Linked DNA regions of Homo sapiens. The protein of the gene in region 1 purifies or fractionates together with the protein of each later gene. This does not show direct contact. Each region holds a gene or a part of one and is shown in the gene's direction. Other genes may lie near its edges.

Region 1 (8,638 bases):
CCTGTTTGTCCCCTTATTGGTGGTATTTGTTTAATTACTTGGTTAAGGTGTTGTTCATTATAAAGTTATATTTTTCCATTGGCCAATAACAAATAATATGTTAGTTTGAAACTGTGAATGTCCTGCTCTTCCACAAACTTTCACCTAATGGTTTGAGCACCCTTTGATTCTTGCTGGAATCAGTTATTACTATGGTGATTTAAAAACTTATGCTTAATCATGAAAACAACCCAACTAATGAATTAATTACTCATATCTCATTTTAAATGTGGTGAAACTGAGGTTTAGAGAAATTAGCTTGCCTAAGCTCATGTAGCCAGGAAGTTGTGGAGTTGGGATTTTAACTTTAATGTGGCAAAGTCTTCAATAGAAGACTCTGATACTGGATGTCAGGTATTCAGAGATAATAGATGTCTGCTGTTCTTGAACTATTAGTTTGATGATACAGACACATATGTAAGCAAATGTTAAAGAATTATGATGCAGGTATTAGAAGAAAGAATGTGGGAGAATGGAAGAGAATGGAGGAAGGCAAGTGTTGCAAACATGAGTTTGAAAGATGAGTAGGAGTTTGTCAGACAGTGAAAAGAAAGGAAGCGTTTTCAGGTAGAGAAAAAAGGTTATATAAAGATCAAATTGTGAAAGGCCATCACATAGATAACTTTTTTTTTTTTTTTGAGACAGAGTCTCGGGTCACTGCAACCTCCACCTCCCAGGTTCAAGCAGTTTTGTTGCCTCAGCCTCTCGAGTAGCTGGGATTACAGGCATGCACCATCACACCCGGCTAATTTTTTGTATTTTTAATAGATACAGGGTTTTGCCATGTTGGCTAGGCTGGTCTCAAACTCTTGGCCTGAAGTGATCTGCCCAAAGATACGCTCAGCCTCCTAAAGTGCTGGGATTACAGGTGTGAGCCACCATGCCCTGCCTCAGAGAACTTCGAATTCAGTTTGCTACTAGGGCATGAATGATGGCAGCATAATTTGAAGAAGGGAGAAGGAAGTGGGGCAAGGGAAGGAAAGAGTGGCAGGAGATAAGACTGGGAAAAGTTGAGGTTAGATGGTGAAAGGTCTTGTAAGTCTTCCTTGGTTTGGTCTTTGTAGACTCAGGATTGCCACCACAAATAACTCTAGAAGCTAGGCATGAAAGAGTGTAGACAGAAGTAGGCATAGTACAAAAAAAAAAATAAGTGCCATAAATAGAATTGTTTCTTAATTTTTATTGAACTATGGGTATAGCACTTAACATACAAAGATCATAAGAGTAACTATATTTTAAATTTAAAGTAGACATTAAAAAAAGATAGTGCATTTAAAAGTAACTTGTTACTTTTAAATTGGAGACTGGAAATTTGATACCTTCTCTTTTGCCCCTAGTTATCACTCCTAATTCTGTTATTTCAGCCTCAACTCCTTTAGATGTTAGCAATAATTAGTTTTTTATTCTGTTTCATAATAAAACCGTTTACACATGAGATTGTAGAAAATTCTGATACCCTAAAGTCATCATATTTAGTTTAAGAATTATAATTCACTAACTACTTCCTTTGTGGCTCTTTATTCATGTACCAATATTGAGAAAGGTGAATTGAATAATTAATATTAATTCATTTTAATAAACTTAAAAAATAGAGAACAGCTGCTTTGCCTATGGAGTAGCCATTCTTTTATTCTTTTCTTTTTTTTTTTTGAAATGGAGTTTCGCTCTTTTTGCCCAGGCTGGAGTGCAATGGCGCAATCTCGACTCACTGCAATCTCTGCCCCCTGGGTTCAAGCAATTCTCCTGCCTCAGCCTCCCAAGTAGCTGGGATTAAAGGCATGTGCCACCATGCCTGGCTAATTTTGTATTTTTAGTAGAGACGGCGTTTCACCATGTTGGCCAGGCTGGTCTTGAACTCCTGATCTCAGGTGATCTCCCTCCTCAGCCTCCCGAAGTGCTGGGATTACAGACGTGAACCACCGCGCCTGACCTATTTTCTTAATAAACTTACTTTCACTTAAAAAAAAAAATAGAGAACCTTTTTTGGAATTAGTCTTAAATGCTACAGATTGAAAACAAATGTAATGCAGGCCATCATTTTCTTTCCTGTTCACTCAGTTCAGTTTAGGAAGTAGGCCAGATTATTCCTTGTCAGATGAATTTTCCAAACACACTTTTGCTAGGTATTAGGAATTTTTTTTTTTTTTTTGAGACAGAGCCTCGCTCTGTTGCCCTGGGTGGAGTGCAGTAGCACAATCTTGACTCACTGCAACCTCAGCCTCCCAGGTTCAAGCAATTCTCATGACTCACCCTCCTGAGTAGGTGGGATTACAGGCACATGCCACCACGCCTGGCTAATTTTTGTGTTTTTGGTAGAGACAGGGTTTTGCCATGTTGCCGAGGCTGGTTTCGAACTTCAGGGCTCAAGTGATCCACCCGCCTTGACCTCCCAAAGTGTTGGGATTACAGGCATGAGCCACCTTGCCTGGCCGGTATGAGCAATTTGTTTTTTTTTGTTGTTTTTTTTTTTTTTTGAGACAGAGTCTCGCCCTGTCACCCAGGCTGGAGTGCAATGGCACAATCTTGGCTCATTGCAACCTCTGCCTTCCGGTTCAAGCGATTCTCTTGCCTCAGCCTCCCGAGTAGCTGGGATTACAGGCGTGCGCCACCACGCCCAGTTAATTTTTTGTATCTTTGGTAGAGATGGGGTTTCACCATGTTGGCCAGGCTGGTCTCGAACTCCTGACCTCGTGATCTGCCCGCCTTGGCCTTCCAAAGTGCTGAGATTACAGGCGTGAGCCACTGTGCCCGGCCGGTATGAGCAATTTGAATCACACATTTGGATAACCGTTGGCAAACATCCTTATAGAGAAATAAGAAATAGATGACTTTAGATGGGTTGTGATGTCAGCTTGGTGGTCAAACTGAAGCATTTTCTGTTTAGATAACAATAAGTTAATTTCTTTTAGCAGTTCAAATATTTTCTTTCTCTGTATCAACTCACCTCCTTTTAGTAGAAGACTACTATATTGTGTATCAGTCAAAGAAACCACTGACTATGATTCAAAACAAAGGAGTCTGTATTATAGATTGACTGTTGTATTGATTTTTATGGCTATAATAATGTAATTTTAGCCCAAAGAGGTTAGGCTAGGCTTTGGAGTGTGTGGAAATGAGTGTATCCACTCTCAAGGAACTCTCAGTCTAGAGGCAGCTATCATTAGACCTGGGCCATTGTGATTGTTTAATAAATATTTGTTCATTTAATGGGTGAATGAAAGGATGGGTTCTATTTATGAGTTCATTTTACATCATTACATAGTATACATATGTGTATACATACTATTTATATGAAAGTTAGAAATAAAAAATTCATAACAGCATTTATGAAAATTTTCCTGCATGTGATACATTCTGATTTTAAAAATTTTAATCAATTTCTTTAAAATTCTGTCATGGTCCATTATATTGATATCATGAGCCACTAATGGATTGTATCCATGGTTTACAAAACATTCTAATGTTTAAGAAACAGAATAATTTCTAGGATCAGTATTGATGGATTCTTGGCAACAAAACCATTAATCTTTGGGGAACTTTGCAATAGATGAAATTTTAGGCTAGGAAAAAAGAAAATAAAATAAAAGCTCATTCTGACCATGGGAATAGCCAAGGAATTATAAAGTTAAGTTTTGAACCCTTCCTGGACTCTGACTTTTTTCTCCGTAATTTTCTTATCAGCCTTCAAACAGTGGCCGAGCTGCAGAACTCCTTGCCAAAGAACAGGGAACAGTGCCTGGATTTATTGGTTTTGGAACATCTCAGAGTGACCTAGGCTATGTTCCTGCTATTCAAGGAGCTGAAGAAATTGACAGTCTTGTAGATTCTGATTTCCGAATGGTGCTGCGGAAACTTTCAAAGAAAGATGTCACCACAAAATTAAAAGCAAGTTTTCTTGTTTTCATAAAAATTATCAAGAAAATCCCTTTGTTAAAATAAAATGTCATTAGCATGTTTTATGTAAAGAAAAATGAACAATTTATTGCTAAGTTCTTTTATAATTGTACTTTTTTCTGACACAGAGTCTTAAACTTAGTTGATATTTATTTTCTAGGTCGTAAATTAGTTTGTTACAGTGAACTTTTTTAAAGTGCTTTGGAATTTTGGCTGTATAGTTTTTCCCATTAGGGAATGTAACTTTGACCTTGTAACTTTAAATGAGGTTTTTTTGTTTGTAGATGTTTTATTTTTAAAAAAACAACTGAAGAGTTTCTACCGTAGTAGCCTGTGAAAGAGCTCTTCAAACTAGTCTCATATGGCATAAAGAGAAATAGTGTATTCTCCTATTACATAAAATAGACAAAGCTTCCAGAACAGAATAATCTATAGCCAGTTATTATGGTTGTTAATCCTAATGATGTTAATAACTTACTTTTAGGCTATGCAGGAATTTGGAACCATGTGTACAGAGAGAGACACAGAAACTGTGAAAGGAGTTCTTCCATATTGGCCAAGAATTTTTTGCAAAATTTCACTTGTAAGTATTAAAACTTTGCTAGTTTATTTCTGTTGTATATTTTTTGGTTGGAGTCATGGAGACTCTCAAATTTATAATGTTGATTTTTGGTGAGGGTTATTAAATGTTATGTCAGCATTGTTATGCAGATTGAATTGTTAACACTTGAGAAGAGCGTGGAAATAAAAAAAGAGATTGGGGCCTGGTATGGTGGCTCATGCCTGTAATCCCAGCACTTTGGGAGGCTGAGGTGGGCAGATCACTTGAGGTCAGGAGTTTGAGACCAGCCTGGCCAACATGGTGAAACCCTGTCTCTACTAAAAATACAAAAATTAGCCGGGTGTGGTGATGGATGCCTGTAATCCCAGCTACTTGGGAGGCTGAGGCAGGAAAATCGCTTGAACCCGGTGGGGCGGAGGTTGCAGTGAGCCAAGATTGCACCACTGCACTCCAGCCTGGACAATAGAACAAGACAATGTCTTTAAAAAAAAAAAAAAAAAAGATTGGATTGTGTTGGGTTATGAAGAACATTTAGGAAGTCTGTTTTCAGAAATTAGGTTGTTACTGGAGAATTACCCAGGTGCTTTCCAGTTTTAATAAATTTTGATAGTGATTTTATTCCCTGTATATTTGCTGCAGAAGAATGAGAGTGAGTTGCTTAATTATTGAAGACCCAACTTTTTTTTTTTTTTTTTTAATTGAGACGGAGTCTCATTCTGTCACCCAGGCTGGAGTGCAGTGGCGCGATCTCTGTTCACTGCAACCTTGTCTCCTGGGTTCAAGTGATTCTCCTGCCTTAGCCTCCTGAGTAACTGGGATTACAGGTGTGTGCCACCATGCCCCGCTAATTTTTTGTATTTTTAGTAGAGACGGGGTTTCACCATGTTGGCCAGGCTGGTCTTGAACTCCTGACCGCCAATAATCCGCCTGCCTCGGCCACCGAAAGTACTGAGATTATAGGCACGAGCCACCAGGCTCGGCCTCAAGGCCCAACTTTGAATCTGTCTTGAATACAATCCTATCTCATTGGGAGAAGGGGAGAAAGAAAAATTAATAAATTATTTTACATAGTTTCTGATTTAAAAACCTCCAAATTATTGATTTAAAAAAAATGATTTCAGTTTAGCTTAATACATAGGTGAATTCTTGGTAATGGGTCATTATAGCATATCCGGAAATGTCTGTGATTGTTTTTATGGGCTAGAGCTATTTTAAATCACATTTATATTTTTAATAGGATCATGACCGTCGCGTCCGAGAAGCCACACAACAAGCTTTTGAAAAACTTATCCTTAAAGTAAAGAAACAGTTGGCTCCCTACTTAAAAAGTTTAATGGGATATTGGCTAATGGCTCAGTGTGATACTTACACACCAGCTGCGTTTGCAGCAAAAGATGCATTTGAAGCGGCTTTTCCTCCAAGCAAGCAACCTGAAGCCATAGCATTTTGTAAGGATGAAATTACAAGTGTAAGTTCTGGAATCATTCTGAATCTATTTTTTTTTTTTAAGTATTTAAGGGTTATAAGCATAATGACAGCTCTTTTACTTGGGATTGTAGGGGAATGAGTAAGTAGAGTATTTCCAACTGAAGGTTGCCTTTTTAAAATTCTGTTTAGTTAAATAACCATTTTGGATCTTTAACAAGATTAACATTTTGGATTGGATCTTTCTACAGTATTTAAATTTTCCATTTTAATTTTGAAGTCTTTATTATATTTTTAAAAAGTAGATGTTTTATGTAATCTAAACAAGTAATATATCTAAAAATAAATCTAAAATTATTTTCTCTCGTGTTTCCATATCAATATATATATATATACAGATCTAACTTAGTGTCTTTTTCTTTTTATTGGCTCTCTGGTATTACTATACATGGATGTACTGTAGTTTATTTAACTTTTTAGATTAATATACATTTGGATTTTTTTCCAATTTTTATCATAACAAATGCTATTTCAGTAAACATTCTTGAGTAGATCTCTTCATACCCTTGTGGGAGTGATACTTACTAGAACTTCTAGTAAGCATATGTTGGGCCAAAGAATAAGAACATTAAAATTTTTTATAATGATAAATGGCCCTTCAAAAGGCCAAACAAATTTATACTCCCATTTTCAGATAAAGTTTCTCCACACTGGGCTAACACTTTTGCCATAACTTTCTCATAAAAAGTTACCAGCCATACCTGTTTGTGGCTTTCAGTGTGTCTGTTTCTAGTAGTGTCTCATTTCTTCCCCCTTCATTTTCTATTCCCAATATATGGACTAGAAAAACCAGACAACAAAGTTGTTAGAATTATATTGAGAAATAAAAGTAGATGAAGTAGAAGTGAGGAGGGAATTGATAATTTTTTAAAAAATCTATGCTTGCATTTATTCCCTTATTTAGTACTCCTGTGTTTCCACAACACCCTGTGTATAACCCTACTTAAACATTTCCATCTGACCCTCTCCCCCTGCTTTCCTTCCTCCTTTCAATTAGCCATCCTTCCTGTGGCTCTCCATTACACTTTTAAGTTCAAATTTCTTGTCTTGACATACAAGGCTCTGCATGATCTGGTCCCTGCTTCCCTATCTAATCTCTTCACCCAGCACTCCCCAACACATAACTTGATTGTAGTACCTCATTTAGGTTCTTCCATTCTTCATTTCTCAGGTGTACCAAGCGTGTTTTTCTAGAGAGAGGGTTTGTAGCTTTAATCATATGCTCAAATGGAGTTTTCTAACCCATCTGTAGCATAAGAATCATTGGTTGATTTAAAATGCCAAGTTATAAACGTTACAAGAGTGAAGTGTCATGAGTTTGGACGCTAAGAGCTTTAGGAAATGGATTTTGAGACAACTAGTTTGGCTCTTCATAGGCTTTAGAAAATAAATTTGTTCTTGGCTTTGTCATGGATGGATAACTAATCATTGAACATTGGGTTATTTCTTCCATTTTATTTTCCCTTTAGTTGGCTATGTTACAGTTCATTACAGCTGTTGGCATTGAACTGTCTCCAGTTCCAAACCCATGTATTAGAGAGGAGTTAGGCAAATGAAAATCAAAATGTCAGCATTATAGATAGTATATCATACTGTCTATAAGACATGGGCTCTGGGTCACACCATTGGTTCTAGTCCCACTCTGCCATCAGCTAGCAACTAGGTGTGTGACCTTGGGCAAGTTTCTGTGCCTTCATTTCATAATCTATAAAGCAGGAATTAACTTGTACTTCATGGAGTTCTGAGGATTGATTTAGTTAATGCCTAAAATGTGCTCAAAGCAATACCTGGCACATGCAAAAGCTCAATAAGTGTTAGTTATTGTTATTGCTGATAAAGCAGTTACTGGAACAGTGGACTCCCTTGCACTGCACCCCAGGAGGAAACAGACTTCCGTATATTTGAAAACCTCATACCTTCCTCTGTGATGGAGCAGAGCACAATGTATGGTGTTCTTTGTGGGCAAGCAGGCTTACAGAAAGAGGGGAGAGGAAAGCAGAGCCTAATTTATCTCCCAGATTCACATTCACTTCATTGCTGTGTGAAAGAGAAATGGAGGAACAAGTGGTCAGGAGTATTTATAGGTGCGTGGGGAAGAAGTATCTAAAGCAGCTAACCTTGGGAATTGATAGGAAAAGGAAAATTGGTAAAATTCAAACCTTTCAGTTTTGCTATTTGATTCTGCTCTTAGGTAAGATGATGTTTATGGGGATTTTTAAAAAGTGGATTTTATTTAACTAGGCTCTGTCTGTTCACCATTGACAGTTCAGTAAAACCAAAGGCTTTGGTATTTCCCCCCTTTGTAGGTGCTGCAGGATCATCTTATAAAAGAAACACCTGATACACTCAGTGACCCGCAGTAAGTTGTATTGTTTCATTGTAACTCATGTTAAGGATTTGTTTCACTCATAAGTAATCAGATGATTTCAATGTGACTTTTTGTTTTTGTTTTTTTTTTGAGACAGAGTCTCACTCTGTCACCCAGGCTGGATTGCAGTGGCGCAGTCTCAGCTCACTGCAACCTCCAGCTTCTGGGTTCAAATGATTCTCATGCCTAAGCCTCTCGAGTAGCTGGGATTATAGGCATGCACCACTACACCTGGCTAATTTTTTTGTATTTTTTATAGAGATGGGGTTTCACCATGTTGGTCAAGCTAG
Region 2 (8,638 bases), on another chromosome or scaffold:
ATCCGCCAGCCTCAGCCTCCTGAAGTGCTGGGATTACAGGCATGAGCCACCGCGCCTGGCCCAACATTAATTTTTTTAAAGTATAATTTTCATTAGTTACCTCACCTTTTATGGTTTCCTGATTTCTAAATCCATATTCTATAGCCTAACATTCTTGGCTTTCTGTGTTCTTTCTCCTCCCTGCCCCACCTTTTTTTCCTAGTCTTATCTTCCAGAGCTCACTTTTGTGAGTCGTATTCCTCTGTACCCAGTCAGTATTTTTTTTTTTTTGGAATACTCACTGACATTAATATGTTACTAAGTCTTTTTATTTTTCTGTTTTGTTTTTACTATTAAAACAGATTTTTACATGGGTGGGCATGCTACCCATTCTTTTATTGATGTAACATATAGATTGAAAATTCATGTGGTACACGAGACTTTCGAGTCACATATACTTAACTTTGAATTAATAGCTTTGTCAGAAAGTAATTTTATAACCTGGAAAAGTTACTTAACCTCTTGGAATTTAGTTTCTTTAAATGTAAAATGTGGATAGTACCTCCTTCATGAAATTATTGGATTAATTGAAATGATATATAAAACACCTAAAACAGACCAGGTGCGGTGGCTCATGCCTGTAATTCCAACACTTTGGGAGGCTGAGGCAGGTGGATCACTTGAGGTCAGAAGTTCAAGGCCAGCCCAGCCAACATGGTGAAACCCTGTCTCTACTAGCCAGGCGTGGTGGCACACACCTGTAATTCCAGCTACTTGGGAGGATGGGGCAGGAGAACCACTTGAACCTGGGAGATAGAGATTGCAGTCAGCTGAGTTCGCACTGTTTCACTCCAGCCTGGGCGACAGAGCGAGACTCCATCTAAAAAAAAAAGAAAGGCACCTGAAACAATACCTGACACATATTAGAACTCCATACATGTTCATTTCCTTCCTGCTCCGCTCCTTACTTTGGCAATGTATCTGTTATGGCATTGAGTTATTTCATTAGAGGCTTTACAGAGAAGAGCTTTACCCCCCAGCAATTTAGAGTCTGTTTTGGATTACAAATTAGGTAAGTGTTTCCATATCACAAGGGCTTTCACAAAATTCTCAGATTATTAAAGTTTAATTTATTTAATAGTAACCCAAAATAGTTCTTTTGGGGCCTGTCCTTAATAATAATGACAATAATAATGCTACCTGTTGTGTAGCACTTTTTAAGGCAGATGAATAATATGTATTTCATTTAAGTTGTTTAGCAACTCAGTGGACTGTGAAGAACAAATACAATTTCAGTTTTATGGATGAGGTAACAGGCCAATGAAATAGGACACTGGGATTGTGTAAACATCTCCAAATCAGACTACACTAATAGGTCAGTCACTTTAAAAAATACTTAGAATTCTATGGGTTAGGTGTACGTGTCAATCTAAATGTATAGAAAGATTTCCTCAATGGAGCAGACAATGTTAAGCACTTTATAAATCAAAGAGCTGTTACTGTTGCATGGCACAGGCAGAGTTATGTCTATTATGTGATAAATCACAGTGGTTGTTCCAGTATTCACATTTGGGGATGACAGCTATAGCTTTGTGGCACACAGCAGCAGGTTGATTTCACCAAGCTGTTGATAGGGAAATGAAACAAGCTTTAAATATGTACTATGTGTCCATCTGTACTCTCCATGATAAATAATCCCCTTTTTACTATTCCTTTGTGTGAACTTCTGTCCTTTCAATGATGCCTTTTGTCTTTATTTTTCTTGAATAAAATTATTACTCAGGGACTCTGGAAGAACTGATTGTGATTTTCCTCTAGGGATTTAAAGATAGCCCTACATGTAGGTTACTGTTTAATCAAATCAGTATAGGTCATTCTTAAAACTACTGAGTTAAGGAGGAGCAGATTGTTTATCCTAGGAAGTTATTCTGCCTATGTGAGTATATAAAATGCGAATTTCAGTCAATTTGGGCTATAAGGTCTGGAGAAGAACTCTTCTTAGTTATGAAAATGTTAGCATTAATTTTAATAATGAATTTATGTGTTTATTGTTGTTTTTTTTCAACCTTTGTCAAGGAGTGGATTTTTTGTCTTTTTTTTGAAGGTGGTCTTAGATTAACTTCTGTAAAATTTGTTTCGTATTTAAGTCTTTTTTTTTTTTTTTTTTTTTGAGACGGAGTCTTGCTCTGTCACCAGGCTGGAGGGCAGTGGCGCAGTCTTGGCTCACTGCAACTTCAGTCTCCTGGGTTCAAGTGATTCTCGTGTCTCAGCCTCCCAAGTAGCTGGGATTACAGGCACACGCCACCATGCCTGGCTAATTTTTGTATTTTTAGTAGAGATGGGGTTTCACCATGTTGGCCAGGCTGGTCTTGAACTCCTGACGTTGTGATCCGCCTGCCTCGGCCTCCCAGAGTGCTGGGATTACAGGCGTGAGCTGCCATACCCAGACCGTATTTGAGTCTTGAAGAAAGCATTCTTTCTTATTGGTCTTAACTAAAGGGTCTTTTATATTAAAAAATTAGAAACAATTGTAAGATATTTTAGAGGCTACAGAGTAGTCTTGTTACCAGTCCATGTCATACTTCAATATTTGTACAAAAAGACGGTACATGTAATCTAAAAGAGTAGGTATTGCCAAGTAAATTGTATTTGGATTTGATATACTAATATTATTTTAATTGTTAATAAGAAAAAGAACCTTATGGCCAGGGATAGGAGGAAGGGGATTTAATAAAGAATGAGAGTTATTACATTGGATTGAAATAGGTTATCAAAAGCTTAGAGACGATACCAGGAAAATTCTCTTTGGGTTATATTAGTAAAGTTTGTAGGAATAAGCTGGGCACAGTGGCAGGGCACTTGTAATCCTAGCTACTTGGGAGGCTAAGGTGGGAGATTGCTTGAGTCCAGGAGTTTGAGCCTTGCCTGGGCAACAGAGAGACTCTGTCCCTTTCTTTTTTTTTTTTTTTTTTGAGACAGAGTCTTGCTCTGTTGCCCAGGCTGGATTGCAGTAGTGTCATCTCGGCTCACTGTAACCTCCGCCTCTTGGGTTCAAGCGATTCTTTTGCCTCAGCCTCCTGAGTAGCTGGGATTACAGGCATGCGCCAGCACGCCCAGCTAATTTTTGTATTTTTAGTAGAGATGGGGTTTCACCATATTGGCCAGGCTGGTCTTGAACTCCTGACCTCAAGTGATCCACCTACCTCGGCCTCCCAAAGTGTTGGGATTACAGGCCTGAGCCACCGCTCCTGGCAAAGACTCTCTTAAAGAAAAAAAAAAAAAAAAAAAAAAAAAAAAGAATTGGTAGGGGTAACTGGATATAAGGTGGTGGACTATTTACAGGATACCATAAGCCATAAGCTCATGGTCCATAGTTGATATGTATTAGAAGTAGAAGATTAGTGGAAACAATTAATTAATTTTGAACATAAATGAAGCATACAAAAGGGAAATTTGGCATACTTAGAAGTGTCATCAAAGAGACTTAAAAAAAATAAAGGGACTGGGTGTGGTGGCTCACGCCTGTAATCCTAACACTTTGGGAGGCCGAGGTGGGCAGATTGCCTGAGCTCAGGAGTTCGAGACCAGCCTGGGCAACGTGGAGAAACCCCGTCTCTACTAAAATACAAAAAATTAGCCAGGCGTGGTAGTGGGCGCCTGTAGTCCCAGCTACTCTTGGGAGGGTGAGGCAGGAGGATTGCTTGAACCTGGGAGGCAGAAGTTGCAGTGAGCCAAGATTGTGCTACTGTACTCCAGCCTGGGTGACAAAGTGAGACTCCGTCTCCAAATAAATAAATAAATAAATAAATAAGTAAAGGTTGGCTGGGCACAGTGGCTCATGCCTGTAATCCCAGCACTTTGGGAGGCTGAGGTGGGCGGATCACGAGGTCAGAACTTCGAGACCAGCCTGACCAACATGGTGAAACCCCGTCTCTACTAAAAATAGAAAAATTAGCCGGGTGTGGTGGCACACGCCTGTAATTTCAGCTACTCAGGAGGCTGAGGCAGGAGAATCACTTGAACCTGGGAGGCGGAGGTTGCAGTGAGCTGAGACTGTGCCACTGCATTCCAGTCTGGGCGACAGAGCGAGACTCTCTCTCAAAATAAAGTAAATAAATAAAGGTTGTGGCTTATGAGTGAGGTCATTAGGACCACAACAAGGAATTTAGCAGTGGTATAAAGCAACAAAGCAAATTTTGCTATAGGTCCATCATTCTCTACTTAAAAATTGAAAATAAAAGCCTGGCTCAGTAGCTTACGCTTGTAATCCCAGCACTTTGGGAGGCCAAGGCAGGAGGATTGCTTGTGCCCAGGAGTTTGAGATTAGCCTGGGCAACATAGTGAGACCCTGTCTCTACAAATAATGAAAAAATTAGCTGGGGATAGTGGCATGTGCCTGTGGTCCCAATCCTCAGGAGGCTGATGCAGGAGGATCACCTGAGCCAGGGAAGTCGAGGCTGCAGCGAGCCATGATCACACCACTGGGCTCCAGTTTGGGTGACAGAGTGAGACCCTGTCTTAAAAAAATGCAAATAAAACACTGTTTCAGAGTTAGTGTTTATAATAAAATGTTTTCCCTCTGATTATCATCTGCAATCTATTACTTTATGACTATACTGTTATTCACAACGTTTTAAATATTCCTGATGATAATGAAAAGAAGCTTATTTATAAACCAATACCAAATGGTTAGGAATTCACTTTTACTAAATGAATGCCTTTTTCTTTCTCTTGCTAGTGCCGAAAACATTTGAAGAGTCGGAGATTAGTCAGTGCAAAACAGCTTGGTGTGGATAGAATTGTAGATTTTCAATTTGGAAGTGATGAAGCTGCTTACCATTTAATCATTGAGCTCTATGATAGGGTAAGTTAAATTTGTGGGATATGGTGAAGGAAAATTTCTTATTAATCATTTTGTAATAGTGCTATATAACATGAGTGGGGGAACATTTTTTTTCTGTGTCAAAGGTTGTTACTACCCTAGGAAATGGGTGCCACACAAATAAAATAAAATTTTCCAGTAATAACCTTCATTTTATCTGTAGGTCTGAGTTTAGGCAGACTTTAGCCATTTAGAATAGCCTTATGAATGTAGGAGATGAAGATCTGAGAAGTAAATTATTTGGTACTTGACATTTCAGGACTAATATGCAACCAGAAAATAGTCAAATACGGTCATGCACTGATGCGCTGTATGTATAGTGATGTTTCAGTCAACAACAGACTGCATATAAACGTTGGTCCTGTAACATTGTAATGGATCTAATAAATTCTTACTGCTTAGTGACATCTTGATCCTGACTCTGTGTAGGCCTAGGCTGGTGTGTGAGTTTGTGTGTTAGTTTTTAACAAAAACATTAAAAGTAAAAACAAAACAATTTAAAATGGAAAAAAAGCTTAGAGAATATGGATCTAAAGAAAGAAAGTATTGTACAGCTGTACGATATGTGTTTTAAGCTAAGTGTTATTACAAGAGTCAAAAAGCTAAAAAGTTTAAAGTTTATAAAGTAAAAAAGTTCCAGGAAGCAAAGGTTAATTTATTATTGAAGAAAGAAAAACATCTTAAAAATAAATTTGGCTGAGCGCAATGACTCAGGCCGGGCACAGTGGCTCACACCTGTAATCCTAGCATTTTGGGAGGCCGAGGAGGGCGGATCACCTGGGGTCAGATCACCTGGGGTCAGGAGTTCAAGACCAGCCTGGCCAACATGGCAAAACCCCGTCTCTATTAAAAAATACAAAAATTAGCTGGGCGTGGTGGCGGGCACCTATAATCCCAGCTACTCGGGAGGCTGAGGCAGGAGAATCACTTGAACCTGGGAGGCAGAGGTTCCAGTGAGCTCAGATTGTGTCACTGTGCTCCAGCCTGGGCAACGGAGCAAGACTTTGTCTCAAAAATAAACTAACTAACTAACTAACTAACTAACTTAATCTGGGCCAGGTGTGGTGGCTCACACCTGTAATCCCAGCACTTTGGGAGGCCAAGGCGAGTGGATCACCTGAGGTCAGGAGTTTGAGACCAGCCTGCCCAATGTGGCAAAACTGCATCTCTACTAAAAATACAAAAATTAGCCTGGTGTGGTGGTGCGTGCCTGTAGTCCCAGCTACTCGGGAGGCTGAGGCAGGAGAATCACTTGAACCTGGGAGGCAGTGGTTGCAGTGAGCTGAGATCATGCCATTGTACTCCAGCTCAGGTGACAGAGTGAGATTCAGTCTCAAAAAGGAAAAAAAAAATATATGTGTGTGTGTGTGTGTGTGTGTGTGTGCGCGCGCGTGCGCGTGCGTGTGTATGTATATAAATAAATAAATACATAAATTTAATCTGGTCTGAGGTAAGCATAATTTTTTTAAAAATTAAAAAATAAAAAACAAATTTAGTGTAGCCCAAGTGTGCAGTATTTATCAAGTCTACAGTAGTATGCAGTAATGTCCCAGGCCTTCACATTTACTCACTGTCACTCACCCAGAGCAGTTTTCAGTCCTGCATGCTCCATTCATGGTAAGTGCCCTATACAGGTGTTCCATTTTTAATCTTTTATACCAGGGATCTTCAACCCCTGTGCCGCAGACTGGAACTGGTCTGTGGAACCAGGCCACACGGCAGGAGGTGAGCAGTATGCGAGTGAGCATTACTCACCTGAGCTCTGCCTCCTGTCAGATCAGTGGTGGCATTAGATTCTTATAGGAGCGTGAACCCTATTGTGAACTGTGCATGCAAGGGATCTAGGTTGCATGCTTCTTGCGAGAATCTAATGCCTGATGATCTGAGGTGGAACAGTTTCATCCGGAAACCATACCCCTGCACCCCCCATCCATGGAAAAATTGTCTTCCATGAAACTGGTCCCTGGTGCCAAAGGCTGGGGACTGCGGTTTTTTTTTTGTTTTGTTTTGGTTTTTTTTTTTTGATACAGAGTCTCACTTTGTTGCCCAGGCTGCAGTGCAAGGGTGTGATCTCAGCTCACTGCAACCTCTGCCTCCCGGGTTCAAGCAATCCTAGTGCCTCAGCCTCCTGAGTAGCTGGTATTACTGGCATGTACTACCATGCCCAGCTAATTTTTGTATTTTTAGTAGAGATGGGGTTTCACCATATTGGCCAGACTGTTCTCAAACTCCTGACCTCAGGTGATCTGCTCGCCTTGGCCTCCCAAAATGCTGGGATCACAGGCATGAGCCACTGCGCCCGGCCTGGAACTGTTGTTGTAATACCATATTTTTACTGTACTTTTTCTATATTTAGATGTACTTAGATACACAAATACTTGCTATTGTATTACAGTTGACTACAGTATTCAGTAACATGCTATACAGATTCCTAGCCTAGGAGCAATAGGTTATATCATATCTTTGGTGGATGTATTAGGCTACACCGTCTAGGTTTGTGTAAGTATACTCTATTACGTTCACACGACATCGAAGTTGCCTAAATGCATTTCTTAGAATGTATCCCCATTGTTAAGCAATGCATGACATTGGGTCTGCCTTCTTTTATGCAATATTTTTTATTTTTTTGAGATAGAGTCTTGCTCTGTTGGCCAGGCTGGAATTCAGTGGCATGATCAGGGCTTACTGCAAACTCGGCCTCCTGGGCTCAAGTGACCCTCTTGCCTTAGCCTTTCATGTAGCTGGTACCACAGATGTGCACCACCATGCCTGGCCAATTTTTTTATTTTTTGTAGAGACAGACTCTCACTTCGTTGCCCAGGCTGACCTTGGACCCCTGGCTCAAGCAATCTTCCCATCTCAACCTCCTAAGGTGTTGGGATTACGGGGGTGAGCCACCACGCCTGGCTCTTTTATTCAATATATAATGTCTGTGAGATTCATTGATGTTGAAAATTCCCTTAGCTCCACATCCTTAGCAACATTTGATATGATCTCTTAGAGCTCTTTATCTAATCTGATTATGAGCCCTTTGCTGATTATTTGTGTAGTAAATGTCCTTTTCTACTCTAACCTGAGTTTTTACTCTTTCTTTTTTTTTATTTTTTAATTTTTTTTGAGAATAAGTCTCACCCTGTCGCCAGGCTGGAGTGCAGTGGTGTGATCTTGGCTCACTGCAACCTCCGCCTCCCGGGTTCAAGCGATTCTCCTGCCTTAGCCTCCCGAGTAGCTGGGATTACAGGCACCTGCCACCACGCCCAGCTAGTTTTTGTACTCTTAGTAAAACAGGGATTCACCATGTTGGCCAGTCTGGTCTTGAACTCCTGACCTCAGATAATCTGCCCACCTTGGCCTCCCAAAGTGCTGGGATTACAGGCGTGAGCCACTGCGCCTGGCCTGCTACTAGTTTTTCAGCACTTAGTAATTTCTGGTTATCTATCTCTCTAACCAACGTAAATGGTGGCTACATTTACTGAAGCCACTTACATTGCAACCTGTCATTTCAGATGAATTTGGGATTACTCCCACCGTATTCTGTGACTATCTTGTAAACAGTTGTAAGGCATTTTTGACTGTTTTCATGGATGCTTCTTTGTATTTTAATTATACCTGTAGAGTAACTCTGATCTTCACTGTCAGTAATAAATTTGGAAGGTGGTATTCTTTCGTTAGCTTTATTTTCATTATGTTCCCCCTTCTTTTTTATTGAAAAGGTTATCTAGCAATATTAAATTTTAAAAAGTCTTTAATTCTAAATCTTTAAGAAGTAATTTCATT

The links. Proteins that work in one complex are often made in the same cells at the same time.
Region 2: the proteins of LTN1 (region 1) and NEMF purify together in Homo sapiens (affinity purification with western blotting; 2 studies listed by BioGRID, with this or other methods). This does not show direct contact.

Annotation. Positions count from the first base shown.
Region 1 is NC_000021.9:28,982,017-28,990,654, reverse strand, and holds part of LTN1 (E3 ubiquitin-protein ligase listerin), read left to right. Parts: intron 1-3,720; coding exon 3,721-3,924; intron 3,925-4,417; coding exon 4,418-4,516; intron 4,517-5,732; coding exon 5,733-5,963; intron 5,964-8,286; coding exon 8,287-8,339; intron 8,340-8,638.
Region 2 is NC_000014.9:49,842,345-49,850,982, reverse strand, and holds part of NEMF (ribosome quality control complex subunit NEMF), read left to right. Parts: intron 1-4,717; coding exon 4,718-4,843; intron 4,844-8,638. UniProt on the Homo sapiens protein: Key component of the ribosome quality control complex (RQC), a ribosome-associated complex that mediates the extraction of incompletely synthesized nascent chains from stalled ribosomes as well as their ubiquitin-mediated proteasomal degradation.